Linked DNA regions of Homo sapiens: regions 1 and 3 are each linked to region 2. The links come from fine-mapping of genetic effects on gene expression. A gene starts in region 2. Each other region holds a variant in brackets. All regions are shown on one strand. Distances are from middle to middle.

Evidence for each region.
Region 1: its variant is fine-mapped to the expression of GDI2 in whole blood (INTERVAL, PIP above 0.99).
Region 3: its variant is fine-mapped to the expression of GDI2 in monocytes after LPS (Kim-Hellmuth 2017, PIP 0.94).

Annotation. Positions count from the first base shown.
Region 1 is chr10:5,695,579-5,703,141 of GRCh38, forward strand. All of the region lies in intron 1 of TASOR2 (transcription activation suppressor family member 2), which reads left to right. Among named protein-coding and RNA genes, the nearest start is that of TASOR2, 15 kb to the left of the region's middle. The variant C/G (reference allele first, on the strand shown) is at 4,536.
Region 2 is chr10:5,807,034-5,818,278 of GRCh38, forward strand. GDI2 (GDP dissociation inhibitor 2) reads right to left here and starts at 6,401. Exons shown (of 11, transcript NM_001494.4): 1 at 6,181-6,401. The coding sequence starts at 6,225. It overlaps LOC124902367 (a long non-coding RNA gene), which reads right to left and starts at 6,164. Exons shown (of 2, transcript XR_007062041.1): 1 at 5,282-6,164; 2 at 1-4,923. RefSeq lists silencers at 5,682-6,221, 6,362-6,631, 6,692-6,871 and enhancers at 5,823-6,415, 6,416-7,008, 7,072-7,171, 10,532-10,601, 10,622-10,741.
Region 3 is chr10:5,846,990-5,858,234 of GRCh38, forward strand. TRV-TAC3-1 (tRNA-Val (anticodon TAC) 3-1) reads right to left here and starts at 6,794; the gene lies at 6,722-6,794. RefSeq lists enhancers at 5,313-5,362, 5,493-5,582, 5,677-5,846, 6,103-6,162, a cis regulatory region at 5,762 and a silencer at 6,643-6,843. The variant C/CA (reference allele first, on the strand shown) is at 6,342.

The sequences.
Region 1 (7,563 bases), 110 kb before region 2:
GAAATTAAGACAGGTTAAGTAGACACTTTTAGTCTAACATGTTCAATTGTATACACTCTTTGGAAGTCTCTCTTAAGATTATAGTAAAAGAATAAGGATATAAATCCACAAAGATCAAGAGGAGGTGAGAGGAAGATATAGCTGAAATCAGTATTTGGGAAACTAGAAAGGAGATGGGCAAGTAATAAATGATTTCATGAATTAGAGAATGCTGAAAGCTGAAGAGAGGTAACCCAGCAAGGAGCAAGCAGATTCTTTCCACAGAATCTGGAAAAGTTTTAGGAATTGGGGGTATCAAGTACAGGACTTCTGAAGTCAAGAATTACAGGATGGGGTGGGAATAGAAGGGTTGGTTGATGGTCTTTATCATTTTGATACCCTGGAACCCCTTCTCCACTCCCACACACCCAGACAACTACTCTCTCCTCTACCTTGACGGAAGACTGAAGGTTTATACCCAGGAGACTAGGAGGCTCCAGATGGTTAAGGTGGGGGTGAAGCACCTAAATGAAAATGAGGATTGAGTGAAAGTCAGGTCAACATGCTGAACCTAGAGCGGTTGTCTTTTTTTGATTGGCTTCCAAACTATCAGGCTTACGTGCCCCTCAACAAAACATTAACGGATTCTTAGCTGGGGAAACTTACCAGCCCATGGCACAGTATTTAACAGATATGAACTATGGAAATTCACCCGATTGAACAGTTGGATCCATCAGATCACCTGGAGAGTACAGCCGCTGGTCAGGAAGCATTGTTCACGTACCACAGCTTCTAGTCAACTTTTATTTCATTTTTTGAGACAGGGCCTCACTCTGTCACCCAGATTGAAGTGCAGTAGCGCCATCATAACTCACTATAGCGTTGAACTCCTGGGCTCAAGCCATCCTCCCACCTCAGCCTCCTGGGTAGCCGGGAATACAGGCGTATGCCCCCACGTCCAGCTGATATTTTTATTTTTTGTAGAGATGGGGTCTCACTATGTTGCCAGGCTGGTCTTCAACTCCTGGGCTTGTGATCTTCCTGCCTTGGCTTCCCAAAGTACTGGGATTACAGGTGTGAGCCACTGGTGCCTGGCCCTAGTCAGCTTTTAAATGCCTCACATTTGAGTATAAATGTACAGCCAAGGGTCGCCTGCCATAGAATGAAAGTCTCTAATGAAAAAGAGACCAAGTAGGAAATAAAAGGAGCTGAGTATAAATAGATTTACTTCAGGGAACAGAAGAAACTTCAACAAATAAAACTAGTATCTTTAAAGAGAAGATATTACATCTGTGAAAGATGAAAAAGTTTATATAAAAAAAACTGCTGCGACAGAAGAAATTTCTTAAAAATTTAATACAAGGTTTAGATAATAAAGCTGAAGAATTCTCCCCAAAAAACCAGAAGAGCACAAGAATTAGAAAATAAGAGTGAAATGATGAGAAAATTAGAGGGCCAACCAAGGAGGTTCTTCATCTAATACAGTGGAAGGAAACTATCTGTGTCCCAGAACTGAAGAAGGTGACTTTCTAGGTTGAAAGGGCCTATTAAGCGCCCTGATCAATAAAACAGAAACAAACAAAAAATAAACAAAACTTCATTGTACCGAATGTATAGTTCCAAAAGGAACAAGACCAGATTGATTTTCTTCCTACTTCTGAAAAGAAGAATGGGGGCAGAGAACGAGGTGCTAGCTCTTAAACTGCATTTTAACAAATTCAGGGAAAAAGGAAACCTTAACTTTAAATTGTATGCAAGTGCTGTTAGGTATCCCCAGTGGGAAGTTCCAACAGTTCTGTGACAAAGATAAAGTTGCGCAGAAGAAGCATATTTCAGGTATCTCCAGCAACTTATTCATATCCAGAATCAGCCCTATCCAAAGAGAGAAGTCTCGTATACCTGGCTAAGACTGAGGAGCCATATGGTATCAAGGAAGGAGAAAGCAGAATGAGAAAGTGCCTGGGTGGGGCATGGGGGAGGCAGAGATCTTAGTGCTAATAAAGTACTCCTAGAAATGAGTGCATAACCTTGGAAAGCAAGGGTTGTGTCTCTAAGAGGCAAGCAGAGCTGGCAATAAAGGCCCTCCTGAACCAGATTACATTTGGAGATTAGATAAGGAACAAGGCACCATATTATAAAACAGCAGTCCTCTGATTTAGGAACAGAGGGAACCCTAAAGAAACATGACAAGTGCCCTACCCCTCCCTACACCCTGAATCTTCTGATAACAGTCCAGGATAATTCATCTCATTCAGACATGTATAACAAAAATAGTATGTACAGCATCCATACAGTGACTGTCTGGTAGATGGTATTTTTTATGTTTTATGTTGGTTTTTTGTTCTTTTATATTATTTTTATTATTGAAGATATAATTCACATGCCATAAAATTCACCATTTTAAAGTGTACAGTTGACTGGCTTTTAATTTATTCCCAAGGTTGTGCAATGATCACCACTACCAATTGCATTATTGACCCTAGTGCTTTACTTTTCCTTATGTTCACTCCATGACCCTATGCAGTTCCTTTCATTAAAGTGACAGAGATATTTCCCTACTCCTTGACTTTGTGTTTGGCTATGTGACTTGCTAAGGTAAAAGTGATAACATATCAGTTTCAAGCCTAAGCCTTAAGAGGCCTTGGGTATTTTTATTTGTTCTCTTTCTATCTGTGCCATTTCCATGAGAAAAACATGTCTCTGCTAGCTCATTGGTTGAGGGAAGATGAGAGATAGGAGAGTGAGGGCCACCCCAGCTGAGTTAAGCTGAATTCAATGAACACTGTAGAGATGTGAGTGATAAAAAAATGATTGTGGTTGTAAGCCAGTGAACTTCAGGATGGTCTGTTAATAAACATTAGTTAACCGAACAGTTATATGATTAAAAATAAAAAAAGAGAGAGAAAAACCACAATTTTCTACAGACGATATTTTTCAAAACAATATTAGCAGAAAATAAATCACAAGTGGTCAAGCTACTGCCTGTGGTCTTGCCTATTTTTGTAAATAAAGTTATATGGGGACATGGTCATTCCTATTTATGCATTTTCTATGGCTGTTTTTATGCTCTACCGGTAGAGATGAGTAGTTGTGACAGAGACCGTGTGGTTCATAATCCTAAAGTATTTATTTTCTGACCCTTTATGAAAAAGTTTGCTGACCTTTTGAAGTAGATGGAAAATGTGACCTAAGGTTTTAATACAAATTTTAAAATAAATTTATATACCACATCATACCCATTAAGATAGCTGTAATCAAAAAGACAGATAATAACAAGTGTTGGTAATGCTGTGAAAAAATTGGAACCTTCTGTATACTGCTGGTGGGAATATAAAATGGTGCAGCCACTTTGAAATCAGCCTGGCAGTTTCTCAGATGAGCAGACACAGATTTACTGGAAGAGCAAGCCATTCTACTCTAAGGTATATACGTAAGAGAAATGAAAACATGTTCACATAAAAACTTATACATGAATGCTCATAGCATAATTATTCATAATAGCCAAAATGTAGAAACAACCCAAATGTGCATCAGTTGATGGATAAACAAAATGTAGTATATCCACAAAGTGGAATATTATTTGGCATAAAAAGGTATGAAATATTGATATATGCTTTAACATGGATGAACTTCAAAAACAGGCTAAGTGAAAGAAGCCAATCATGAAGGACCGCGTGCTGTATGACTCTGTTTATAGGAAATGGTCTGGAATAGGCAAATCTGTAGAGACCGAAAGTAAATTATGGTTTCCTAGGCCTAGGAACCAGTGAGGGGTGAGGAGGATAGCTAAGGGGTAGAAGGTTTCTTTGGGGATAATGAAAATACTCTAAAATTGATTGTGGTGAAGGTTGCACAATTCTGTGGATATACTAAGCACAATTCTGTGGATATACTAAAAGCAATTGAATTGTACACTTTATGTGGGTGAATTGTATGCCGTATGAATTATATCTCAACATTGTATTAGAAAATAAAATTAATGAAGCATAGAAGTTACGGAGAACTACTGGAAAGAAGAAATACAAGAACTCAAGGAAGAGACAGCCAGACAACAGTAGAGTGTGAAATGGGAACCAGCAGAAAAAAAGAAATAGAGAAAAATGATCAAGCCATTTCAGAAGTACACAAGGGAGACTAGACACCATGGCAAAGATCATAAAAGTAGAAATGAAATTTTATGGTAAGTATATTTTACCACAATTTTGATAATGCAAAGAAAGAAAACAAAAGATAGACAGGAGAAAAATGAGTAAAACAGGTACACATTTATTTTTATTGATGCGTAATAGATGTACACAGTTTTAGGATACATGTGATAATACAGTCATATAATTTGTAGAGATCAAGTCAGTGTAGTTGGGTCATCTGTTACCTTAAATATTTCTCTTTTCTTTGTGCTAGAACCACTCAAATTCTATTCATTTTGAAATATATAATAGATTGTAAACTACAGTCAACCTACTGATCTAACACTAGGTCTTCTATCAAACCATATATTTATACCCATTAATCAACTTCTCTTTATTCCTTCCTTCCTCCTACCCTTTCCAGCCTCT[C/G]ATAACCACCAAATCTACTCTCTATTTTCATGAAATCCACTTTTGTAGCTTCCACATATGAGTGAGAGTATGTGATATTTGTCTCTGTGTGCTTGGCTTATTTCACTTAACATAAAGACCTACAGTTGCATCAGTGTTGCTGAAAATAGCAGGATTTTATTTTTTTTTTATGGCTGAATAATATTGCATTGTGTATACTACATTTTCTTTATTCATCTGTTGATGGACACTGAGGTTGATTTTATATTTTGGCTGTTGTGAATAGTGTTGCAGTAAATACGGGAGTGCAGATGTCTTTTTGATATGTTGATTTTCTTTCTTTTGGATATATACCCAGTAGTGGAATTGCTGGATCATATGGTAGTTCTGTTTTTATTTTTTTGAGAAAGCTCTGTACTCTTTTCCATAGTGGCTGTACTAACTTAAATTTCTACCAGCAGTGTATAAGGGTTCCCCCTTCTCCATATCTTCGCCGGCATTCATTATTGCTTGTCCTTTTAGTAAAAGCCATTTTAACTGGGGCGAGATGATGTCTCGTAGTTTTGATTTGCTTTTCTCTGATCATTCATGATGTTGAGGATTTTTTCATACACCTCTTGGCCATTTTTATGTCTTCTTTTGAAAAATGTTTATTCAGATCTTTTGCCTGTTTTTTAATTGGATTATTTGTGGGGGTGTGTCTGTGTGTGTGTGTGTGTGTGTTTGCTTGCTTGCTTGCTTGCTTCCTTGCTGTTGAGTTGTTTGAGCTCCTTATATATTCTGGTTGTTAATCTTTTGGCGGGTGAGTAGTTTGCAAATATTTTCTCCCATTCTGTGGGTTGTCTCTTTACTTCATTGTTTCCTTTGCTGTGCAGAAGCTTTTTTTTTAGCTTGATGTAATCCCATTTGTCTATTTTTGCTTTGGTTGCCTGTGCCTTTGAGGCCTTAAACAAAAAAAGTTTGGCCAGACTAGTATCCTGGAGTGTTTTCCCAGTGTTTTCTTCTGGTAGTTTCATAGTTTTGGGTCTTAGATGCTTAGATGTAAGTCTTAAATCCATTTTGATTTGAATTTTGTATATGGTCAGATTGTTTTGTTCTTCTGCATGTAGTTATCCAGTTTTCCCACCACCGTTTATCAAAGAGACTGTCCTTTTCCCATTGTATGTTTTAGCTCCTTTGTCGATGATGAGTTGGCTCTATATGGATTTACACCTGGGTTCCCTGTTCTGTTCCTTTGGTCTGTGTTTTGTTTTTATGCCAGTGCTGTAGCTTTGTAGTAAATTTTGAAGTCAGGTAGTGTGATGCCTCCAGCTTTGTTGTTTTTGCTTAGTATTGGTTTGGCTATTCAGGATCTTTTGTGGTTCCATATACATTTTAGGATTTGTTTTCTATTTCTGTGAAGAAGAATGTCATTGGAATTTTGATAGGGATTGATTGCATTGAATCTGTAAATTGGCTTTGGGTAGTATTCAACAATATGAATTCTTCCAGTCCCTGAGCATAGAGTATCTTTCTATTTTTTAATGTCCACTTCAATTTCTTTCATCATTGTTTTATAGTTTTTCTTGTATAGATCTTTCACTTCTTTGGCTAAATTGATTCCTAGGTATGTTATATTCTTTGTAGCTATTGTAAATGGGATTGCTTTCTTGATTTCTTTTTCAGATTGCTTGCAGTTGGTGTATACCAACGCTACCGATTTTTGTATGTTGATTTTGTATCCTGCAACTTTACTGAATTTGTTTATCAGTTCTAACAATTTTTTTGGTGGAGTCCAGGTTTTTCTAAGTATAAGATCACGTTATCTGTGAACAGGCTTATTTGACTTCTTCTTTTCTGATTTGGATGCCCTCTATTTCTTTCTCTTGCCTAATTGCTCTGCCCAGTACTTCCAGTACTATATTGAATAAAAGTGGTGAAAGTAGGCATCCTTGTCTTGTTCCATATCTTAGAGGAAGGGCTTTCAATTGTTCCTTGTTCAGGATGATGTTTGCTATTGGTTTGTCATATATGGCCTTTATTACTTGAGATACGTTCCTTCCATACCCAGTTTGATGAGGGTTTTTTAAAATCATAAACAGATGTTAAATCTTATTAAATGCGTTTTCAGCATCTGTTGAAGTAATCATGGTTTTTGTTCTTAGTTCTGTTAATATATCACATTTATTGATTTGCACATGTTGGACCATCCTTGCATCCCTGGGATGAATCCCACTTGATCATGGCAAATATCTTTTTACTGTGTTTTTAAATTTGATTTACTAGTATATTGAGAATTTTTGCATCTATGTTTATCTGTGATATTGGCCTGTAGTTTTCTCTTCATTGTCTCCTCTGGTGTTAGTATCAGAGTAATGTTGACCTTGTAGAATGAGTTTGGAAATATTTCCTCCTCTTCAATTTTTTGAAGAGTTCAAATAGAAATTTATATTAGTTCCTCTTTAAATGTTTGGTAGAATCCAGCAGTGAAGCTATAAGGTCTTGGGCTTTTCTTTAATGGAAGAGTTTTTATTATAGCTTTGATCTCATTACTAAAATGGTCATTTTTTTTTTTTTTTTTTTTTTTTTTGGTAAGTAAGGATAGATACGACAGCCAAAAGAGATCCAAAACGGGCAAAACTGGAGCCCCAAAAAAGAAAACCGATTCCGTAGAATACATAATTTAAAGTATAATTTAAGATGTTTCTTTTCCTTAAAGAAAGGACTTAAATCTATTGAAAAGACACAACATGCTCCAGGGAAAACTGGCGCAACATTGAGACATATTCTGGTAAAAAATTTCAACTGGCAAAAGATCATATAAAGAAAATCAGGTTGGTGCAGAATAACAGAAACATTCAATACCAGAAAATAGTAGAGGAACTACATGTCAGCTACTCAAAGAACATGTGAGCCAAATATTTTTTTGTGCTGCCAAGGTGTCCTTTGGGTATAAAGACTATGTACTGGCTGGTAGTTTTAAACATTCAGGGTTTTACATCTTTTTATATGAGCCTTTCTTGAGGAAACATCTAGAAGACAGATACCAGCTAATCAGTAAATGAAAAAG
Region 2 (11,245 bases):
ACTTGGAGCAAATATGACAAGAGCTAACTAAAGCTAATAAAAAATCTGCAGGCCCACTAGTTCCTCTATACCCAACTATTATAAAAGACTGCTTCCACACTGCTAAAAGAATATATAATAGCACAAACATAATAAGCTTTGTTTTAAAACATGGGTGAAGTCATTAATTGATAGAATTTATCAGTCATATCTGGGCACAGTATATATTAATGATCCTAAAATTTTAATATTTTTCCAAAATTACCAGCTCAAAATTAAATTCTACTACAACCTATCTGATGAATACACAATATTCACAAGCAAAGCACATTAAAGCCATAAAAACTAAGCTTCTCTTTTTCACACTAGAAAAGCTGGTCCATCTATCATGTACATCAAGTAACTTTAACCACGAAACTTGTATGTGAATGAATATTCACCAACATGAGTTGTAAATGTAACAGGTAAGAGTACCCACTGTAACTTCAAACTCACCTACAAATGACCTAAGCAGGATAAGAATACATATTCACATCCAAAATCACTAAGACTATAAAACCATCTTCAGAATCCAAGTTCTGTATGACACTAGCATCTGCCACCCACCTGGCACTTGACGTTCTCCTACATAAAAACAGGTAACCAACCAAAATGGTTTTTAATATTTAATTGCACCAAAGTGCTAGTACGTGTAGATATGTGGATGTGGGGCTGGGGGACAGAACCATCAGCGATACTGACGTTCTCTTCCTTCAGCACCCTACACATACCACCAGAGTTGCAATCATCAAAAACAGAATAACTCATTTGGACAACACCCAAATATATTAGACAAAGCACCTGAAGAGGCTGAATGAAATTTCTATATATGAATTGTTACACCTACATGGTGTTTCCACGGCCAGTAACAATGGTATGCTGAAAAATTAATGCCCACTCCCCAACCCCGATTACAGAGCAATTTAGACTTGGAAGGGAATAGAGCCAAAATTTATTAATATTTTGATATACCTTCCTAGTGACAAACTAAACTCTATACCCTGGCTGGGCAAGGTGGCTCACGCCTGTAATCCTAACACTTTGGGAGGACGAGGCAGAAGAACTGCTTGAGCCCAGGAGTTTGAGACCAGCCTGGACAACATGGCAAAACCCCATTTCTACAAAAAATACCCAAACTACATGCCTCCTGTAGTTCCAGCTAACTTGGGAAGCTGAAGTGGGAGGATCATTTGAGCCTGGAAGGTTGAGGCTACAGTGAGCTGTGATCACACAACTGCACTCCAGCCTGGGTAAGAGACCGAGACCCTGTCTCAAAAACAAACAAACAAAAAATCCTCTACACCCTATCAAATCCTACTGCATTTTAAAGTTCTGTTATGGGCTGGGTGCGGTGGCTCTCGCCTGTAATCCCAGCACTTTGGGAGGCTGAGGCAGGCAGATCACCTGAGGTCAGGAGTTCAAAACCAGCCTGGCCAACATGGTGAAACCCCATCGCTACTAAACATACAAAAAAATTAGCCGGGCGTGGTGGTGAGCACCTGTAATTCCAACCACTTGGGAGCCTGAGGCAGGAGAATTACTTGAACCGGGGAGGCAGAGGTTGTAGTGAGCTGAGATTGAACCACCGCACTCCAGCCTGGGTAACAGAGAGCTCTGTCTCAGAAATAAAAAGTATTGTTGTTATTAAAAAAAAAAAAAAAAAAAAACTACAAATACACACACACACACACACACACAAATGTGATCAGGAGTACAAAGTATCTAATAACTAATATTAAAGTGCCTTTTCAAAACTACTTACCTAGAAACATGAGAAATTAACCAGAAAAATTTTAAATCAGTTCATTTCAATGGCAAGTATCTTACAGCAACATAATAAAAATGGCTGTTTTATGAAGAATGTTTCTTTAAATGACTCTGCCCCTCTAATGCATCTCATTAAAAACTGTCAGCCAGGCGCGGTGGCTCATGCCTATAATCCCAGCACTTTGGGAGGCCTAGGCGGGTGGATCACCTGAGGTTAGGAGTTCGAGACCAGCCTGATCAATATGGTGAAACCCCATCTCTACTAAAAATACAAATATTAGCTGGGCATGGTGGCAGGCACCTGTAATCCCAGCTACCCGGGAGGCTGAGACAGGAGAACTGCTTGAACCTGGGAAGCAGAGGTTGCGGTGAGCCGAGATCACATCACTGTACTCCAGCCTGGGCAACAGAGTGAGACTCCATCTCAAAAAAAAACAAAAAAAAAAACTGTCAAAAGATACCTTCTCTTGAAATGTGGCTAATTATATCACTCTCCTGCTCAAAGTCCTCTCTCACTGCCTTGAAGATAATTTTCACATTTCTTAGCCTAGAATCTCTCTCCAAAGCTTCTGTTTCAAGCAAAACAAACCACTCCCCATTCCCTACATACATCCTTGACTTAGCATTGACTTACACTGACTGCTCTCTGCCTAAAAAATCATTCCTCCATTCAAACCTTGCCAATATTTTTTTAAAGCCAGCTAAATATCTCCTTCTTTACGAAGGTTTTCCTGATTCCCTGACTGAACTCATATAAGTGCACCTCTTAGGGGACTTAATGCTTTCTCATACTAATTCTTATTAGTTACTCTCCAACACGAGAACAAGCTACTTATAGACAGGTTCTGTGTTTACCTTTTTACTGCCCATAACTGATCACAATAGTCACTGGGTTTAAATAACTGAAACTGAAACTATTACTCCAGTAAGAGTCTCCAATCAGGTACCATGGGAGGGAAGACAGAGGTAATTGCAGTGTATCACGCATGTGAACATCTACCAGTGGTCTTTAAAAACCAATGTCACACTATTGTCATCTCTACATGCTAAAATATGTCTAATTTCACTTATATTTTCTTTTGGCCAGGATGCTTAACGCTGGTTTAAACTGCCTACAACACAGCTCCCAAGTGTAACAGCATTTGCAAATATTGATCCTATGCTCACTACTGTAGTGAATAGAAAGTCCTTTGTCTACAGAACTCTAACACAGCTATAAGCAAGAACTCTCAAAGAGCAAATCAAAGATTAAGCAAATCCAAGAGGCAATCTGAATTTTAGTTCAGAATTTTAAAATCAAGTATAAAACCTTCTCTGAATCTGAAATCACAAAATTCTGATAAAGAGAAATGAGGAAAAGTATCTGGGATGTAAAGCAAGTTTTTAAACATATGATGCTGAGAATCATCTGGTATACATCACTAAAGTATATATTTCTATTCATAAATTCTTACTGTGTAGAACAAAAAATGGGAAGAAAAAAACCTCTGGGAAGCACAAACAGCTGTGGAACTAGTTACTCTTATTGTTTTAATCTACTATGTCTAACAAGACTCGTGAATTTATTTCCAAGTCCATAGTGAACTATGTGCAAATTATGTGGTGAGAGGCTGCCTACACATGCTGAAAGCAGAGAAAAGTAAATGTTGCCAGCCTAACAGTAAAGTAAGATAGAGGGAAAAAATATGAAGAGTAAACTGAAGAGCTCAAAAAGCATAGCAGCCTGAGAGTAAAGGGGGCAAAAGTTCCTACAAAGCTGGCGGGGTCTTCATGGCTTCACCATGTTACAGCATAACACAATAGTTAATCTTCACTATGTGAAAACTTGGTTATCAAGTAAATTATGTTTCTTAGTTTGTTAAAGAAGTTGTGACAGCATTTAGAAAGGCATTATCCAAAAGCTGTGCTCTTTAGAGATAACCTTTAGTTCCTCAGAAAATTCAATTGTGTGGAATATTCCATTTCTTTTACACACAGAATGAAGATTTTACTCCTTTATACCAAATCGTTTTGTATCTTCTTGATTAAGATAACTATCAATATTTGTGATTATGAGCTTAGACTTAACAACTCATACAAACAATGGCAGCACTAAGCAACACAGCAACTCCAGCACTTCCTTACACTTCTTTAAAAGTAACAAGTTCCTAACACTGAAAGTACTTGCCTTTTTTTAGGTTCTTAAGTCTCAGGCACTAAAGTAAATTTTAAGAAAATTAATTAACTCCAGACATTCAAAAGTTAATTCTGAGTGCTAACTTTGGTTTTCTCTTCTTCTAATTTTTAATCATCTAATTCCTGGTAACACTAAAAATAAGGATATATGATTTCTCATTATCAAAATCATCCTGTCATCACTACTCCTATCAATGATGGTAATAATGTGATTGTCCTGAATTGATATAATTATCAAAGAACATCTCAGAAAACTTAGGAAGGCTCACAGAGATTAAAGTTATCACAGCTACAAAATGACAGCAGAAACAGGTCTGATTTCTAGTTAAGTATGCATCTACCATTCATCAAAGAGTTCACAATCCGAATGAAAATTTAAACAAAGCTCATTATCTTAACTTGTTATATAAAAACACTTTCACCATCTTTGATACAAAGTGATGTGAACGAGGCTTGTGGAAGCCTGCATGATGGTGGATTTGCACTCACTCGTGCATGCTTAACTGACCTCAATTGTGAGCAAATCTGAAAGACCAGCAACAACCATAGAAAAACGGTGGAACTAACCGGCTCTTAAAACACGCTGGCAGCAACACTACCCATTCCAACAGGCAAAATCCACCACAAACTACTAAGCTCAGCTTGGAATCCCAATTAGGCACTTAAAAAAAAAAAAAAAAAAGCACAAAACCTGCAGTGGGTAGGGCCTATTCATTTAGGCATCCAACAGTCTTCCAGCTTTTCAAAGACAGACACAGGATTATTCCTGGATTGGTCAAACATAACGAAGTATTCAGAATGAATATTCTCTAATAATTGCATATAACTATAAACAGAAAAATGACAGACCAGAAAAACACGATTCTAATTCTTCACAAACCTTTCCTAAAAAATTAGCCAAATAAAAGTTCGAAGGTTTTCTCTTGCCTAGAGACATCTAAAAGTGTTATTTTGGGATGTTACCTGTAAAAAAAAAAAAAAAAATTGGTTTGACCCTGAGAGATTATAATAAATTTCAAAAAATTTGAAGTGGAAGTCTACATTAAATGACTCAGGAATTTGAAGTCAGAGTACATAGGATACACAAGATTTACATCAGTATTCATCTTAATTATGATCAAGCAGCCCAAAGTTAGAATTTCAAATTTCCCCAAAAATTGATAGTTAAAATGGTTTTCTCCAAAGTGAATTCTTTTGCAAGATGAACATTTAAAAAAAAAAAAAAAAGAACAGAAAAAGTACAAACTACAGAACCTGCCTGCGTTATCTACAGATTACCTAAAGTTCCCTTAGAAACAGATAACCAGGAAAATCAATATACCATGATATTAGGTACACCTTGCATTCATATATTACAATGCATTCTTCATGTTATTATCTTCCAACTCCCTGAAGAAAGCTTCGGAGTACAGAGAACTTGGCTTTTAGCAATCCATCACCAACCCAATTCTTAGGGGAAAACAGTCCAGAAGAGACAAAGGAGGCAGAGAACCCACCAAACAAAAGGAAAAGGCGGCGAAGGTCAGGTGCGAAAGCATTTGACGGACAAGTTTTGAAAAAACTCAATTCCAATTCTACAGATGCTCAGTAAGTGAGAAGGGAGGGTGGCTAAAAGGATTCAATAATACTTCTCATTAGCAGGGGGGAGAAAGGATTAAAAGACTAATTTCCACGTTTTCGCCAAAAATATAAGTTAATCAAGCCCTAGCAGTTCCGAAGCAGTGATTATCCAAGACTTGTCAGGAAACCCCGTACTCGGCTTTGGCAGCCAGACTGACCCGGGGCAGCGGCCGAGGCGGAATAGGAAATGCAACCGCGAGGCCTGCACCGTCCCCTCCGCCTCGGGTGCTGGTTTCCAACCGGGCGAGGTCACCGGCCCAAACCGGGGAGCGGGACCCTTGGCCCGGGCGGCCTTCTCCCCTCCCCTCCGCTTCCGCTGGGGGCAAGCGCAGAGGCCGGGCTCGGCCGTCACCCCGCCCCGAGCCTCACGGCCCGCATCTCCATTTCCCCGCCTGCCCCTCACACTGGGAGCCGCCCGCTCGCCCCGGGACGCGGGGCGCCCCTGAACCCGCCCGCGCCCCTAGCCACGACTCCCGTCCCGAAAACTACGGCTGACGGCAGAACGAGACCCCCGAGGAGCTGCGACCCGCGGGCCGTGCAGGAGCCGGGGGTGCGCCCGCCCCGGCTGCTCAGCCCCGGCCCCTCAGCCCTGGCGCCCACCGTCAGGCCGGTGCCCAGCACGATCACGTCGTACTCCTCATTCATGGCGGGGCAGGCGCGGACGCAGGACCCGAGCAAGGAAAAGGCGCAGGGGCTCCGTGACCACCCTACGAGGCTGGGAGGCGCTCTTGGGCGCGAAGGAAAGGGGAAGAGAAAGAGAGGAAAATGGAGCTGGCGACAAGGCGAGACCGACCGCCACCTCAGACGGGAAGAGAAGAACTGGGCGGGGAGAGGAGGGGAGGGAGCGAGGAGGGGAGGGCTGTGACTGAGCCTCCGCAGCCGGGGCGGGGCCTGCAGGCGCCGGGAGGGCCGCCAATCAGGCGCTCCCGGCACTCTAATTGGTTACGTCCCCGTCGCTCGCACAACTTTTTTTCCTTCCCCGCCTCTCGCGAGAGGAAAAGGGCGGGGCGTCGCCATTTTGGCTTCCGGTTCCCCTTGCGGCCTCTGCCACGGTGGTTCGGGAGGCGGCGCGCGGGCCGGGGTGGAGGTGCACGGAGCCGCGGGCGGGGACTGCTGGCCACCACCGTTCTGACTCCCGCCGTCGGGGCGGGAGCTCGCTCGGTCCAAGGTCCCAGAGCCGGATCGCCGCCCTTGGACTTTGAGCGGGCGCGTGCGGCGGCCACGTGGGCGAGGAGCGCGGGCCGGGCTGCCTCTCGGGGGTGGCGGCCTTGGTTCCTCCCGCGGGGCTGGGCTTGCCGGGGCCCGGAGCCCGCCGGGAAGAGTTCGGAAATCACACGTGTCCTTTTTCCCGCTCTGTGCCCTCCTTGTTTAGTGCGTTGCCGGTGGGCGCTTTAGGAAATTGGTAGGAGGAAAAGCGGCTTCTTTTGAAAAGGTAACCCTTAACAGAGATGAAAGTGAAAGCCAGGTTTCATTGGGAAGCCGATCTGCACCTACCGAGGGCTGTAACTTAAAGCCGCTGTAAACGTGGTAGCTGATCCTTGTATGCAAAGGTTTAGGCCCTAAGCTTAGAAACTGTTCCTTGCTTGCCTTCTACCCCGCTCCTCTTTTTCTAGAATTCTCTTAGGAATCTCTGGCTTCATTGAGGACACAGGTGTAAGCAGAAGCTGTGTTCTCAGCTCCAAGAGGCCGACCCCACGAAAGCCTAAGCAGGTGAATTTCGTAAAGACGTTGACAGTTGGAAAACCTGTGCTTTCAGCACGTGATAAATCTGCAGAGTCAGCAGACAATGAAGATTTGGCATTCAAGAACTCCTCAAATACTTCTCGATAGTAGCTATTCAGAGCCTGCCTTGATAGACCGAACTTGCTCATATTTAAATCATTAAGATAGAGGAAAGAATGTAACAACTTTTTAAAATGTTTCTTACCCCATAAATACTTGAAGAAGATATGTTATATTGGACCATGGATCTTTCTGGGGGGGAGGGGAGAAGAAAGCAAAAGTAAAGTTTAAATTTACATTCAACCTTAATTTGATTGTATATATTTGTGACCAAATGAATTAGTGCACAGTTGACCATACAACTGATTATGCAACAGTGAGTGTAACTGACTTTTCTTTTGGCTAAGCTAATGATGACTAAAGAAGGTCCTTCTGTTGCTCTGTCTTCAAGTCATCAGGGGGTCATACTACCTATATTTTTGAACCAATATGAAATAACCCTTTTTCTTTATTTTTCTGAGACAATCTCACCCTGTCGTCCAGGCTGGAGTGCAGCGGTGTAATCATGCCTCACTGCAGCCTTGATCTCCTGGGCTCAAGCCATCCTCCCACCTCAGTCTCCCCAGTAGCAGGGACAAGAGGTACAGGCCACCACACCTGACTATTGGCCCTTTTTTTTTTATTAGCAATAACAATAAAGAGCTTTTTTCACAATTGCCATCAGCCTCTGGCTCTTGAAGAGAAATTTAAGCATGTCAACTGAATTATGTTAACCATGTTTTAGGTGAAGACTATTTTATCGATACTCAAGAGTTGTGAGAAACTTGAAGACACTGAGATAAGGGAATTGAATTTAAGGCTAATAAGGATCCCTTCCTTACTTAACACTGAAGTTCATTTTAGTTCACAGTACAGGCCCTATGGCCCAACAGAAGGACAATAACAATCAAACCTGGACTAAGCCTTAACGGACTGAGTGCATCTAAAATGTTGTACCTGAGCCAGGCACAGTGCTTCACACCTGTAATCCTAACACTTTGGGAGGCTGAGATGGGAGGATCACTTGGGGCCAGGAGTGGGAGATGGGAGAATCACTTGGGACCAGCCTGTGCTGTAGAGCCTAGGTAACAGAGACACTGTCCCTATAAAAAAAATTAGCTGGAGGCCGGGCACGGTGATTGATGCCTGTAATCCCAGCACTTTGGGAGGCTGAGGTAGGCGGATCACAAGGTCAGGAGTTTGGAGTTTGAGACCAGCCTGGCCAATATGGTGAAACCCCATCTCTACTAAAAATACAAAAATTAGCCGGGCATGGTGGCACGTGCCTGTAGTCCCAGCTACCCGGGAAGCTGAGGCAGAGCAATCGCTTGAACCCGGGAGACGGAGGCTGAAGTGAGCCGAGATCGCGCCACTCCACTCCCGCCTGGGCAACAGAGTGAGACTCCGTCTCAAAAAAAAAAAAAAAAAAACTGGGCAGGCTGGGTGCAGTGGCTCACGCTTGTAATCCCAGCACTTTGGGAGGCCAAGGCGGGTGAATCACGAGGTCAGGAGTTCAAGACCAACCCGTCCCAAGATGGTGAAACCCCGTCTCTACGAAAACTACAAAAATTAGTTGGGCGTGGTGTCAGGCGTCTGTAATCCCAGCTACTCAGGAGTCTGAGGCAGAGAATTGCTTGAACCCAGGAGGCAGAGGTTGCAGTGAGCCAAGATCGTGCCACTGCACTCCAGCTTGGGTGACAAAGCGAGACTCAGTCTCAAAAAAAAAATCAGCTGGGCATGGTGGCATGAGCCTGCAGTCCTGGCTACTCAGGAGGCTGAGCTGGGAGGATCACTTGAGCCCAGGAAGGTCAAGCCATGATGATGCCACTGCACTCTAGCCTGGGCAACAGAGCAAAACCCTGTCTCAAAAAAAGAAAATTCTGTGCTTTTCTTGGATCTTCCACCCCACCCATTCCAGTTGCAAGGGAACTTGTAGATGACAAATACTGCTTAAGGTGAAGAGGCTTGAAAGCCACTAATTGGTTGAGTTGATCTCATGCCACAGATGGTAGTTCCTGCTACAGTGAAACCTTAGGTTTAGGGGAAGTAGGTTGGTTGGTGAAGATGAGTGGTAAACATCAATCTTTATTTTTAATTTTATTTTTTGGTGCCAAAACCCAAGATCAAACCAGGACACCATCAATCTTTAAAATATTTCAAATCTTGAAATCAGCCAGGTGTGGTGGCACATGCCTGTAGTCCCAGCTACTCGGGAGACAGGCAGGAGAATCAGTGGAACCCGAGAGGCTGAGGTTGCAGTCAGCCAAGATCGCGCCACTACACTCCAGCCTGAGTGACAGAGCCAGACTCCGTCTCAAAAAAAAAATAAAATAAAATATTTCAAACCTTTATGCAAAGCAGGAATCCATGGAGTCTTATTTATACTTGGGTACATGGGAATAATTGTTTGCTGATCTGTTTTTACTAAGCATCCATCTGCCCTTTGAAAAGGAGAGATTTAATCTAAGGAAAGAAAATGAGAGCGAACCTCAGCCCAGACCATCTTTTTCTCTCCTGCATCACTGTGGCAGTTTCTCAACAGGCTTTTTTCCCTCTCTTTTTCCTCTTCTCCTATCTGTTCTGTCCATTATCTTCTAAAAACACGCATCAGATCATGTTCAGGCTTCTGTATATCTTTTGTACTTAGAATACATTGTAGATCCTAGCCAGGCATGGTGGCTAACGCCTGTAATCCCAGTGCTTTGGGAGGCTGAGGCAGATCACCTGAGGTCAGGAGTTCGAGACCAGCCTGACCAACATGGTGAAACCCCGTCTCTACTAAAAATACAAAAATTAGCCTGGTGTGGTGGTGCACATCTGTAATTCCAGCTACTCAGGAGGCTGAGGCAGGAGAATTGCTGGAACCTGGGAGGCAGAGGTTGCAGTGAGCCAAGATGGCGCCACTGCACTCCAGCCCGGGAGACAGAGCAAGACTCCATCTCAAAAAAAAAAAAAAAAAAAAAAGGGATACATTGTAAATCCTTAAATATGACCTAATACCTTAATCTAGCCTCTGTATGTCTCTCCAACTCTATTTTTTAGTGCTCCTTGGCTCCTTGATCATTAAACCCCAAACATGCATGTGTTTCGGTTCCTAGAATCTGGTCAAGCTTTCAACCACCCGAGGGCCTTTGTACTCTTGGTTCCATGGCTACCACCCCTCACTTCCCCCTGCACTTCTTCATACAGCTAACTTTTTCCACTTCCTTAGGTCTCAGCTTTCCCCTCAACCATCATTCTCTATCAGTACCCTGCTTGTTTCTCACTGCTCTTATTAGAGGGGGTAATTATTTTCTTCACTTGTTCTTTGCTTTTCAAATTGGATGTAAACTCCATAGGGGCAGGGATATGAAGCCTGGACAGCCAGTAAAGGGCTGAGCAACTAGTAGAGGATGAGTAAATATTTGACAAATGAATAGGGGACTTGGAAGTTGAGCCCTAGATCAACAAGGACTGAATATGATGATATTGGTACTAGTTTCCTTTTTTCTTTTTTAAGACAGGGTCTCACTCTGTTGCCCAGGCCAGAGTGCAGTGGCACAACCATAGCTCTGTGCAGCCTCAGCCTCCCGGGCTGAAGTGATCCTCCCTCCGCAGCCTCCTGAGTAGCTAGGAGTACAGGCATGTGCCCACCATGCTCAGCTAATTTTTGTATTTTTGGTAGAGATGGAGTGTCACCTTGTTGCCCAGACTAGTCTTGAATTCCTGGGCTCAAGCAGTCTGCCCACCACAACCTCCGTAGGTGCTGTGGTTACTGGTGTGAGCCACCACGCCAGGCCCCAGTTCCTCTTGATACTTTGGAGAAATACAACTTTTCTTCTAGGAAGAGATATTAAAACTAATATTTTAAAGAGTCTTAGAGATAGGTATCTATAAAACATAAACCTGTGTAAAACCTGGATAG
Region 3 (11,245 bases), 40 kb after region 2:
CAGGCCAGTCTTGAACTCCTGACCTCAGGTGATCCACTCACCTTGGCCTCCCAAAGTGCTGGGATTACAGCCATGAGCCACCTCGCCCGGCCTAGGTCTTAAATCTAAGATATAAAACAATCTGATACTATGGCTCCATGTTCCTATTGGGTAAACCAGGACTCCCCAGAAAGCCACGGAATTACCTTTAATGACAGATTACAAACAAAATAATACTACAGTAACAACTTGTCATCATGTACCTTCTGTGTGTGCCAGGCTTTCCTCTCACAGCCACATGGCAAGGTAGGTATTGTGACCTTTTTACAAGCAAGAAGATTGAAGGTAAGGGGCTAATCCACCTGGGCTGTGATTTATTTATTTATTATTATTTTTTGGATACAGGTTCTCACTCCTGTCGCCCCAGGCTGGAATGCAGTGGCACAATCTCAGCTCACTGCAGCCTTGACTTCCTGGGCTCAGGCAATCCTCCCTCCTTAGCCTCCTGAGTAGCTGGGACTACAAGCACGCACCACCATGCCTGGCAAATTTTTTTTTTTTTTTGAAACGGGGTGTTGCTCTGTCACCCAGGCTGGAGTGCAATGGTGTGATCTTGGCTCACTGCAACCTCTGCCTCCCAGGTTCAAGCAATTCTCCTGCCTCAGCCTCCCGAGTAGTTGGGATTACAGGCGCACACCACCATGCCCAGCTAATTTTTGTATTTTTAGTAGAGACAGGGTTTCACCATTTTGGCCAGACTGGTCTCGAACTCCTGACCTCAGGTGATCCCCCCACCTCAGCCTCCCAAAGTGCTGGGATTACAGGTGTGAGCCACCACACCTGGCCTAATTTAAAAATTTTTTGTAGAGACAGGGTCTCATTGTGTTGCCCAGGCTGATCTCGAGTTCCTGGGCTCAAGTGATCCTCCCTACTAGGCCTCCCATAGGATTATAGGCTTGAGCCACCATGATAGGCCACGCTGTGATTTAAACACAGAGCTCTCTGGTGTGGTCCATCCATTCTACCAACCTGTCCTTTACTGCCCAGAGCCCTGTGGCACACAGGAAAATAACATTTCTTTCTTCTTTCTTTTTTTTTTTTTTGAGACAGAGTCTCCCTCTGTCGCCCACACTGGAGTGCAATGGCGGGATCTCAGCTCACTGCAACCTCCGCCTCCCGGATTCAAGCAATTCTACTGCCTCAGCCTCCTGAGTAGCTGGGAATACAGGTGCATGCCACCACGCCCGGCTAATTTTGGTATTTTTAGTAGAGACGGAGTTTCACCATGTTGATCAGGCTGGTCTCGAACTCCTGACCTCGTGATCTGCCCACCTCGGCCTCCCAAAGTGCTGGGATTACAGGCGTGAGCCACCACGCTCGGCCTAGGAAGATGACATTTCTAGGCCCTCCCAGCATCTGGGTGGAGTCACACACCTAGTGTTGCTAATGGAACATGGCCAGAGTTGAGGCCATTGGCAGGCCTGCCCACAGAAGGGCTGTGTGACAGCTCCTGCTGTCTCTTTCCTCAGTTTGTGTGACTGGAAGCCAAGGAGTCCAAGCTGGTGACACTGCACAGCAGAAGGAGCCTGTGTCCTTGAGTTTACCGCTCAGCGGAAAACCATCTTGGTTCAGGGAAAACCCATGAACCAAGAACATCCACGTCAGACATTTCACAGACGAGAAATAAACATTTACTCTGGTAAGTTCCTGAGATTTTGAGGTTGATTCTTTCAGCAATGATTGAGAATCTGGGCTCCAAATTCAGTTTAACTCATTTTTTTTCCTGTGGTCAGCTAAGAAATAGAGTTCATTTATGCCCTTTCAGAAAGAGCCAAATTGCCACATGGATTAGCATCTCATCTAGGGTTGCCAGACTTAGCAAATAAAAATACAAGACAGGCCAGGTGCAGTGGCTCACACCTGTAATCCCCACACTTTGGGAGGCTGAAGTGGGCAGATCACTTGAGGCCAGGGGTTCGAGACCAGTCTGGCCAACACAGTGAAACCCCCATTTCTACTAAAAAACACAAAAATTAGCCAGGCGTGGTGGTGCACGTCTGTAATCCCAGCTACTCAGGAGGCTGAGGCAGGAGAATTGCTTGAACTCAGGAGGTGGAGGATGCAGTGAGCTGAGATTGTGACACTGCACTCCAGCCTGGGTGACAGAACGAGAGCCTGTCTCAAAAAAACGAAAACAAACAACAACAACAAAAATATAAGCCACCTAGTTCAACATGAATTCAGATAAGCCACAAATACTTTTTTAGAATAAATAGGTTTTGTGCAATTATTTGGGACATTACTGATAACAAGAAATAACTCATTGCTTACCTGAAATTCAAACATAACCAGGGGTCTGGCATCTTACTTGGCCAGCCAAGTTTCATGCTATCACATCCACATCTTGACTCTGCTCAGAAAGAGCTGCCCAACTTCTCCACCAATCAACTTCCTTCCATTCCTCAAGTCTTGGCCCTCATTCCACTTTCTCCAGGAAGACTTCCCTTCCAGCCTCGCCTTTCTAGCTCTCTGGTAGTCCTTATCACACTGCACTTGTCTTATGGTGATGCCAGTCTTGCTCTTCTTGTATTATTATTGTTGTTATTAATATTAGAGATAGAGCCTTGTTCTGTCTTCCAGGCTGGAATGCAGTGGTACAATCACAGCTCACTGCAGCCTCGACCTGGGTTCAAGCGATCCCCCCCGCTTCAGTCTCCTGAAGCTGGGACCACAGGTGTGCACCACCATGCCTGGCTGATTTTTTATTTCTTGTAGAGACAGAGTCTCCCTATGTTGCCCAGGCTGGTCTCAAACTCCTGGGTTCAAATAATCTTCTTTGAGCCTCAGCCTCCCAAATTGCTGGGATTACAGGTGTGAGCCATTGTGCCCAGCCCTGGCTCTTCTTGTTTTTGTTTGTTTGTTTTTTGAGATGGAGTTTTGCTCTTGTCACTGGAGTGCAATGGTGTGATATCGGCTCACTGCAACCTCCGCCCCCTGGGTTCAAGCAATTCTCCTGCCTTAGCCTCCCAAGTAGCTGGGATTACAGGCGCCCGTCACCACGCTCGGCTAATTTTTTTGTACTTTTAGTAGAGATGAGGTTTTGCCATGTTGGCCAGGCAGGTCTCAAACTCCTGACCTCAGGTGATCCACCTGCCTCGGCCTCCCAAAGTGCTGGGTGTGAGCCACCACACCCGGCCCTGGCTCTTCTTTCAGAGGTTGATTCTTGAAGGTGAAGACAGACTCTTTGTTCGCTGCTCCTCCCCTGTATCATTCATTCATTCAGCAAACATCCACAGAGGATCTCCTCCACGCCTGGCACACAGCAGGCATGGACACTGCTCTTGGGGACCTTCCAGTTTTGTAGGAAAGGATGCTATTCAAAAACCATATGAACGAATATTGTCAATACCTGGAAGGAATGTTACAGAGTGCTGAGAGAATTTGTCAGGAAGGGCCTGCTTTTATTTGTTGATATTTATTTACTTATGGTAGACATGGGGTCTTGCTATGTTGCCCAGAATGGTCTTGAACTCCTGGGTTCAAACGATCTTCCCACCTCGACCTCCCAAAGTGCCTGGCCTGATTTTTAGTTTTAATCCTTTATTTTTATTTTTATTTTTTTAGAGACAGGGTCTCATTCTGCTGCCCAGGCTGGAGTGAAATGGTGCAATCATAGCTCACTGCAGTGTCGAATTCCTGGGCTGGAGCAATCTTCCCATCTGAGTCTCGAGTAGCTGGAATTACAAACATGTGCCACTACGCATAGCTTTATTTACTGATTTTCTTTTTTATTTACTGATTTTCTTTTCTTTTTTCTTTTTCGAGACAGAGTCTTGCTCTGTCACCCAGGCTGGAGTGCAGTGGCGCGATCGCAGCTCACGGCAAACTCTGCCTCCCAGGTTCAAGCAATTCTGCCTCAGCCTCCTGAGTAGCTGGGATTACAGGCATCTACCACCACAGCCGGCTAATTTTTGTATCCTTTTTTTTTTTTTTTGGAGATGGAGTCTTGCTCTGTCACCCAGGCTGGAGTGCAGTGGCACAATCTCGGCTCACTGCAAGCTCCGCCTCCCGGGTTCATGCCATTCTCTCGCCTCAGCCTCCGGAGCAGCTGGGACTAAGGGCGCCCGCCACCACGCCCGGCTAATTTTTTTGTTCGTTTGTTTTTTAGCAGAGACGGGGTTTCACCGTGTTGGCCAGGATGGTCTCAAACTCCTGACCTCGTGATCCGCCCACCTTGGCCTCCCACAGTGCTGGGATTACAGGCGTGAGCCACCACACCTGGCCTATTTATTGATTTTTTACAACCACTTTATTGAAGTATGAGTGACATACAAATATGCGCATATTTAGTGTATACAGCTTGATGAGTTTGGGGATAAGTATGCACCCGTGAAACCATCACCAAAATCTATGTTAGAAACATACCCATGACCTCCAAAGGATTTCTCCTGCCATCTTTATTATTATTATTATTATTTTATTTATTTATTTATTTTTTTGAGACGGAGTCTTGGTCTGTCGCCCAGGCTGGAGTGCAGTGGTGCCATCTCGGCTCACTGCAAGCTCCTCCTCCCGGGTTCACATCATTCTCCTGCCTCAGCCTCCCGAGTAGCTGGGACTACAGCCACCCGCCAACATGCCCAGCTAATTTTTTTGTATTTTTAGTAGAGACAGGGTTTCACTGTGTTAGCCAGGATGGTCTTGATCTGCTGACCTCGTGATCCGCCTGCCTCGGCCTCCAAAAGTGCTGGGATTACAGGCGTGAGCCACCGCGCCCGACGTATTTTTTATTATTATTGTGATAAAAATACTGCAATGATCAGAATGTTTGTGTTCACAGGTGGAACAATTCATAGGTGGAAACCCTAACTCCCAAGGTGACGGTATTAAGAGGTGGAGCCTTTGGGAGGTGATGAGGTCATGAGAGTGAGGCCCCCATGAATGGGATTCGTGCTTTTTTTTTTTTTTTTTTTTTTTTTTTGAGACAAAGTCTTGCTGTGTCGCCCAGGCTGGAGTGCAATGGTGCAATCTCAGCTCACTGCAACCTCTGCCTCCCGGGTTCAAGCGATTCTCCTGCCTTAGCCTTCCGAGTAGCTGGGACTACAGGCGTGCATCACCGTGCCCAGCTAATTTTTGTATTTTTAGTAGAGATGGAGTTTCACTATATTGGCCAGACTGGTCTCAAACTCTTGACCTCATGATCCGCCCGCCTCGGCCTCCCAAAGTGCTGAGATTACGGGCGTGAGCCCCTGTGCCCTGCCAGGTTTGCTGTTTTTAGATGCCACATATGAGTGAGATCTTACAGTGTTTGTCTCTCTGAGCCTGGCTTGTCTCACCCTAACATCACGTCCTGCAGCTTCATCCACGTTGGCACAAGTGACGTGACAGGATTTCAGGAAGGATTTTTAGAGTGGAATCAGCGATGGTTCCTGTCCAGGGAGAGACATTCAGGCTGTGGCAAGAAGGGCGAATAGGAATCAAACTCATGACAAGTTGAGAAAAGAAATTTCCAGGAAGACACTGAGGTGGAAGGAAATCGGCTTGGTCCGTTTTGTTTGAGGAACTGAAAGGAGGCCTGGGGCGTGAAGAGAGGGTGAGTGAGAGGCGTCTGCGGTGACAGACTGGGCTGTCCCTCTGGCCTCCTTGGCAGTTCTACCCTGAGAAGTAAGAGGCAGGGAGGGGCACAAGCTAATCTGTTTCTAGCTTTCCCAGGCTGCTCTGTGAGAGTCACAGAAAGGGAAGTACAAAAGTAGAAGTAGGCTGGGCACGGTGGCTCACGCCTGTAATCCCAGCACTTTGGGAGGCTGAAGCGGGCGGATCACTTTAGGTCAGGAGTTAAAGACCAGCCTGGCCAACATTGTGACCCCCACCTCTACTAAAAAAAAAAACAAAAATTAGCTGGGCGTGGTGGCAGGTGCTTGTAGTCCCAGCTACTCAGGAGGCTGAGGCAGAAGAGTCGCTTAAACTCAGGAGGTGGAGGTTGCAGTGAGCCGAAATCACACCCCCTACACTCCAGCCTGGTGACAAAGTGAGACTCTGTCTCAAAAACAAAAACAAAAACAAAAGAAAACAAAAAAGTAGGGCCGGGTGTTGTGGCTCACGCCTGTACTCCCAGCACTTTGGGAGGCCGAGGAGGGCAGATTACCTGAGGTCGGGAGTTGGAGACCAGTCTGACCAACATGAAGAAACCACATCTCTACTAAAAACACAAAATTAGCCGGGTGTGGTGGCACATGCCTGGAATCCCAGCTACTCGGGAGGCTGAGGCAGGAGAATCGCTTGAACCCAGGAGGCGGAGGTTGCGGTGAGCTGAGATCACGCCGTTGTACTCCAGCCTGGGTAACAAGAGCAAAACTCTGTCT[C/CA]AAAAAAAAAAAAAAAAAAAAAAAGTGGAAGTAGCAAGGCCAGTGATGAGGCCATCCCAGTAACTCAGCCAAGGGAAACATGGCAGAGCCCATGTCTGAAAGGTGCTCCCGCATTTCCACTCCCACCTGTTCTTCCAGAACTTTACCACTCCCATCAAGAGGTGGAGTCTACTTCCCTCACCTTGAACCCGGGCGAGACTTTGACTGCCTTGACAAATGGATGTGGCAAAGCGACGTTGCATGACTTTTTTTTTTTTTTTTGAGATGAGTTTCACGCAGTCTCAGCTCACTGCAACCTCTGCCTCTGGGTTCAAGTGATTCTCCTGCCTCAGCCTCCCGAGGAGCTAGGATTACAGGCAGGAAAACAACAGACCACACCATGGTTCCACTGGGGCTTGAACCCAGGACCTTCTGCGTGTAAAGCAGATGTGATAACCACTACACTATGGAACCACAGGCTAGCTGAGTTTCAAAGCTAGACTATGAGGCCATGAGGCTGGGCACAGTGGCTCACACATGTAATCCGAGCACTTTGGGAGGCCAAGGTGGGTAGATCACCTGAGGTCAGGAGTTCGAGACCAGCCTGGGCAACATGGCAAAACTCCGTCTCTACTAAAAATACAAAAAAAATTAGCCAAGCGTGGTGGCATGTGTCTGTAGTTCCAGCTACTTGGAAGGTTGAGGCAGGAGAATTGCTTGAACCAGGGAGGCAGAGGTTGCAGTGAGCTGAGGTCGTGCCACTGCACTCTAGCCCGGGCAACAGAGCGAGACCCTGTCTCAAAAAAATAAATAAATAAATAAATACATAAATAAAGTTAGGCTATGACAGGCAATATGGCCTTGCCTGGCGCTCCCTCCCTCTCTCTCAGCTCACACCAGCCCACATGGAGAGACCGAGGGAGAGGCCCATGTGAGGAGGAACTGAGGTCGTCAGCCAGCAGCATCTGCCAGACATGGGTGATTTCAGCCTTCAAATCTTCCAGCTGCAATCCCCAGTCCCTGGGAGCAGAGACAAGCCATCGCTGCTGGACCCTGTCTGAATTCCTATACATAGAATCCATGAGCATAACAAAGGGCTGCTTTACACGGCTAGATTTGGGGGTAATTTGCTGTGCAGCCACAGTACCTGGAACAAGAGGACAATGGCTGGAGTTGCCTAGTGGCTGTCGGTGGGCTTGTTGAAAGTGGACCTATTTGAGATGCTGAATAGAAATTGAATTAACAAGATGTAGTCATGAAAGGGACAGAAAATGTCTTAATTATAAAAAAATTATAAAGACCCAGCCAGGCGTGATGGCTCATGCCTGTAATGCACTTTGGGAGGCGGAAGCGGGCGGATCACCTGAGGTAGGGAGTTTGAGATCAGCCTGACCAACATGGTGAAACCCCGTCTCTACTGAAAATACAAAATCAGCTGTGCGTGGTGGCGGGCACCTGTAATCCCAGCTACTCAGGAGGCTGAGGCACGAGAATTGCTTGAACCCAGGAGGCAGAGGTTGCAGTGAGCCGAGATTGTGTCATTGCACTCCAACCTGGGCAACAAGAGTGAAACTCCGTCTCAAAAAAAAAAAAAATAAATAAACAAATATAAAGATACAAACCAGGCACGGTGGCTTACGCCTGTAATTCCAGCACTTTGGAAGCTGAGGTGGGTGGATTGCTTGAAGCCAGGAGTTTGAGACCAGCCTGTCCAACATGGTGAAACCCCGTCTCTACTAAAAATACAAAAATTAGCCAGGTGTGGTGGCACACACCTGAGTGTGTGTGTACCAGCTTCTCAGGAGGCGGAGGCATGAGAATGGCTTGAACCCAGGAGGCGGAGGTTGCAGTGAACCGAGGTCATGCCACTGCACTTCCATCCCCAGGGAGGGAAGGAGCAAAAGAAAACTAGGAAAAGGGGCTAAAAATGGTGCTTGTCTCACTGCTTTCTTCAGTTGAGCTCTTCTTGGTCTTGTGCTGGTAACTTGATGATTTTCATTCGCCTTTGACGACTCAGCCCATTAAGCCAAAGAGGCTCACCTGGTGCTACTCAGCCTGGGTGACAGAGGGAGACTATGTCTCAAAAAAAACAAAAAACAAAAAATACAAATAAAGATATGAAGGAAGGCCCAGTTAGAATACATTTTTGAAAATACTTCTTTACATTTTTAATGACGCATGCATTTCATATTGAGAGCTTCATTCTTTCGGTTTAATAATTTGATCCTTGTTAAAATGCAGACAATTGGCTGGGCATGGTGGCTCATATCTTTGGGAGGCTGAGGTGAGCAGATCACTTGAGCCCAGGAGTTTGAGACCAGCCTGGGCAACATGGTGAAACCCTGTCTCTACTAAAAAAAATACAAAAAAATAATTAGCTAGGTGTGGTGGTGCCTGCCTGTGGTCCCAGCTACTTGGGAGCCTGAGGTAGGAAGATCGCTTGAACTCAGGAGTCAGAGGCTGCAGTAAGCCGGGATCACACCCCTGCACTCCAGCCTGACAGTGAAATCCTGTCTCAAAAAAAAAAAAATGCAGACAACTCAAGGATTGATAAAATTTGAAATTTTTTCATTAACACCTTAGCATGAATGAAGACTGAAACCTAGTTTTCTTTTTGATAAAGACAATGGAGGCGTCCAAGGGCTAAGGACATACATCCCCAGGGAGGGAAAGAGAAAGAGAAAAAGTAGGAAAAGGGGCTAAAAATGGTGTTTGTCTCACTGCTTTCTTCAGTTGAGCTCTTCTTGGTCTTGTGCTGCTAACTTGATGATTTTCATTCGCCTTTGACGACTCAGCCCATTAAGCCAAAGAGGCTCACCTGGTGCGACTGTTACTCACAATGGCTCACACGTGTTGGGTGCACGTGCTGGGCCAAGCATCATGCACGCTGTAAGGTATATAGATGTGATTTGGTCAAGGTAGAGACCGAGGCGGATATACAGGCCTGCACGGCTCAGTGAGTTTGGTGCGCAGGCGCACACCTCCGCTTGTTACATAACCTGTTTGTGTAAGTTCATACTTGGCTCTGAGCCACTATTGTCTGTAAAAGGTATAACTGCCCTGCTGACGCCGTACAGGTGCTTTTGAGGCTCAGCTTGGCTCGACATGGCTTGATGTGGTGGGTGCGCTGGCGCCCAGAGAAAGGGAGACAGCCAAAGCTGTCCATCTTGTAGACAGACAGGAGGGAGCCAGGACACAGCTCTGCTTGCTTGTGCCAGAGAAAGAAAGAGTTAAGCTGCTGACCCTGAAGGCAAGGGAGAGCCGGGGGTCACAGGAGCCACAGAGCCAAAGCAAATAGCAGAGATAAAGGTGGACAGGGTGAGAGAGCTAATGTGAGTAAGCTGCTAATAAAAAGCCATTGATGAGAACTGCTGCTGAATAAAACCATATTCACCTGCCTAGGCCCCCTGCACCAAAGCGTTTCTGCTCATCCACCCCACTCACCTTGGACTTCAGCATGGGCTGGACCTGGACCGGGGTCTGACACACACCAACTCGGTTAATCCTCACAGTAAACCTGGGAAGGAGGTGCCATTTTGCCCATCGTTTACCAGGACACTGAGAGGCAGGGAGTGTGACCTGCATGAGGTCACTTGGAGCATCACTGTAGGGGACTAACACCCTACACGGCTATGCGGCCTTGTTCTCTGCTCCGAATGCCATCTTCACAGATTGTTCTCATGTCCCTTACAACTGCGTATCTATAAATAAGTGGATTTGCTCTCTGGTCTCTAAGACTTTAAAAGCTAAGGTTAAGGAGTGTGTGTGTTAGGGGAAGGGTGGGGACAGCAGCAAAGACTTGCACAGATAATTGTCCCCAAATAGTCTCAATGAAGGCACCTCTGATAAGGGCATATGGCAAAGCCCTGAACCATCCCTAAATTTCAATTTTCTTCTAGCAGTCATATGACTGATCTATGGTCAGGAGGATGTGAACAGAAATGATCTACATGCCTTCTGAAAAAAAGGGGGCATGCATAGCCTCCCTTTCATTCTTTTTTCTTTTATATATTTTTTTTATTTTATTTTTTTCGAGACAGGGTCTCACTCTGTCTCCCAGGCTGGAGTGCAGAGATGCAATCTCAGCTCACTGTAATCTCTGCCTCCCGGGTTCAGGCGATTCTCCTGCCTCAACCTCCCAAGTAGCTGGGAGTACAGGTGTGTGCCACCATGCCCAGCTAATTTTTGTTTGTTTGTTTTGAGATGGAGTTTCGCTCTTGTTGCCCAGGCTGGAGTGCAATGGCACGATCTCGGCTCACTGCAACCTCCGCCTCCCAGGTTCAGGAGATTCTCCTGCCTCAGCCTCCCGAGTAGCTGGGACTACAGGCATGTGCCACCATGCCCGGCTAATTTTGTATTTTTAGTAGAGATGGGGTTTTTCCATGTTGGTCAGGCTGCTCTCCAAGTCCCGACCTCAGCTGATCCACCCATCTCACCCTCCCAGAGTGCTGGGATTACAGGCAGGAGCCACGGTGCCCAGCCTAATTTTTGTATTTTTAGTAGAGGCAGGGTTTCACCATGTTGGCCAGGCTGGTCTCGAACTTCTGGCCTCAAGTGATCCACCTGCCTCAGCCTCCCAGAGTGCTGGGATTACAGGTGTGAGCCACTGCGCCTGGCCCTCCCCTTCATTCCTGTTCCCCTCCACAGGTTGGGGAGCAATCTTGGACCACATGGAAAAGGGCAACCTACTCAGGACAGCAGAACAACCAGCAGAAGGAACCGGGGGGCTGACACCTGGGGCTGGTTGAGCTCATCTGTACTTGGCTATGCCCAGACTCTTATGCGGGAAAGAAAATAAACTTTGGTTTAGTCCACTGTTATTTTTTGGTCTTTATTTAGAGACAGGGTCTCACTCAGTCACCTAGGCTGGAGTGCAGTGGTGTGATCATAGCTCACTGCAGCTGTGAACTCCTGGGCTCAAGGCA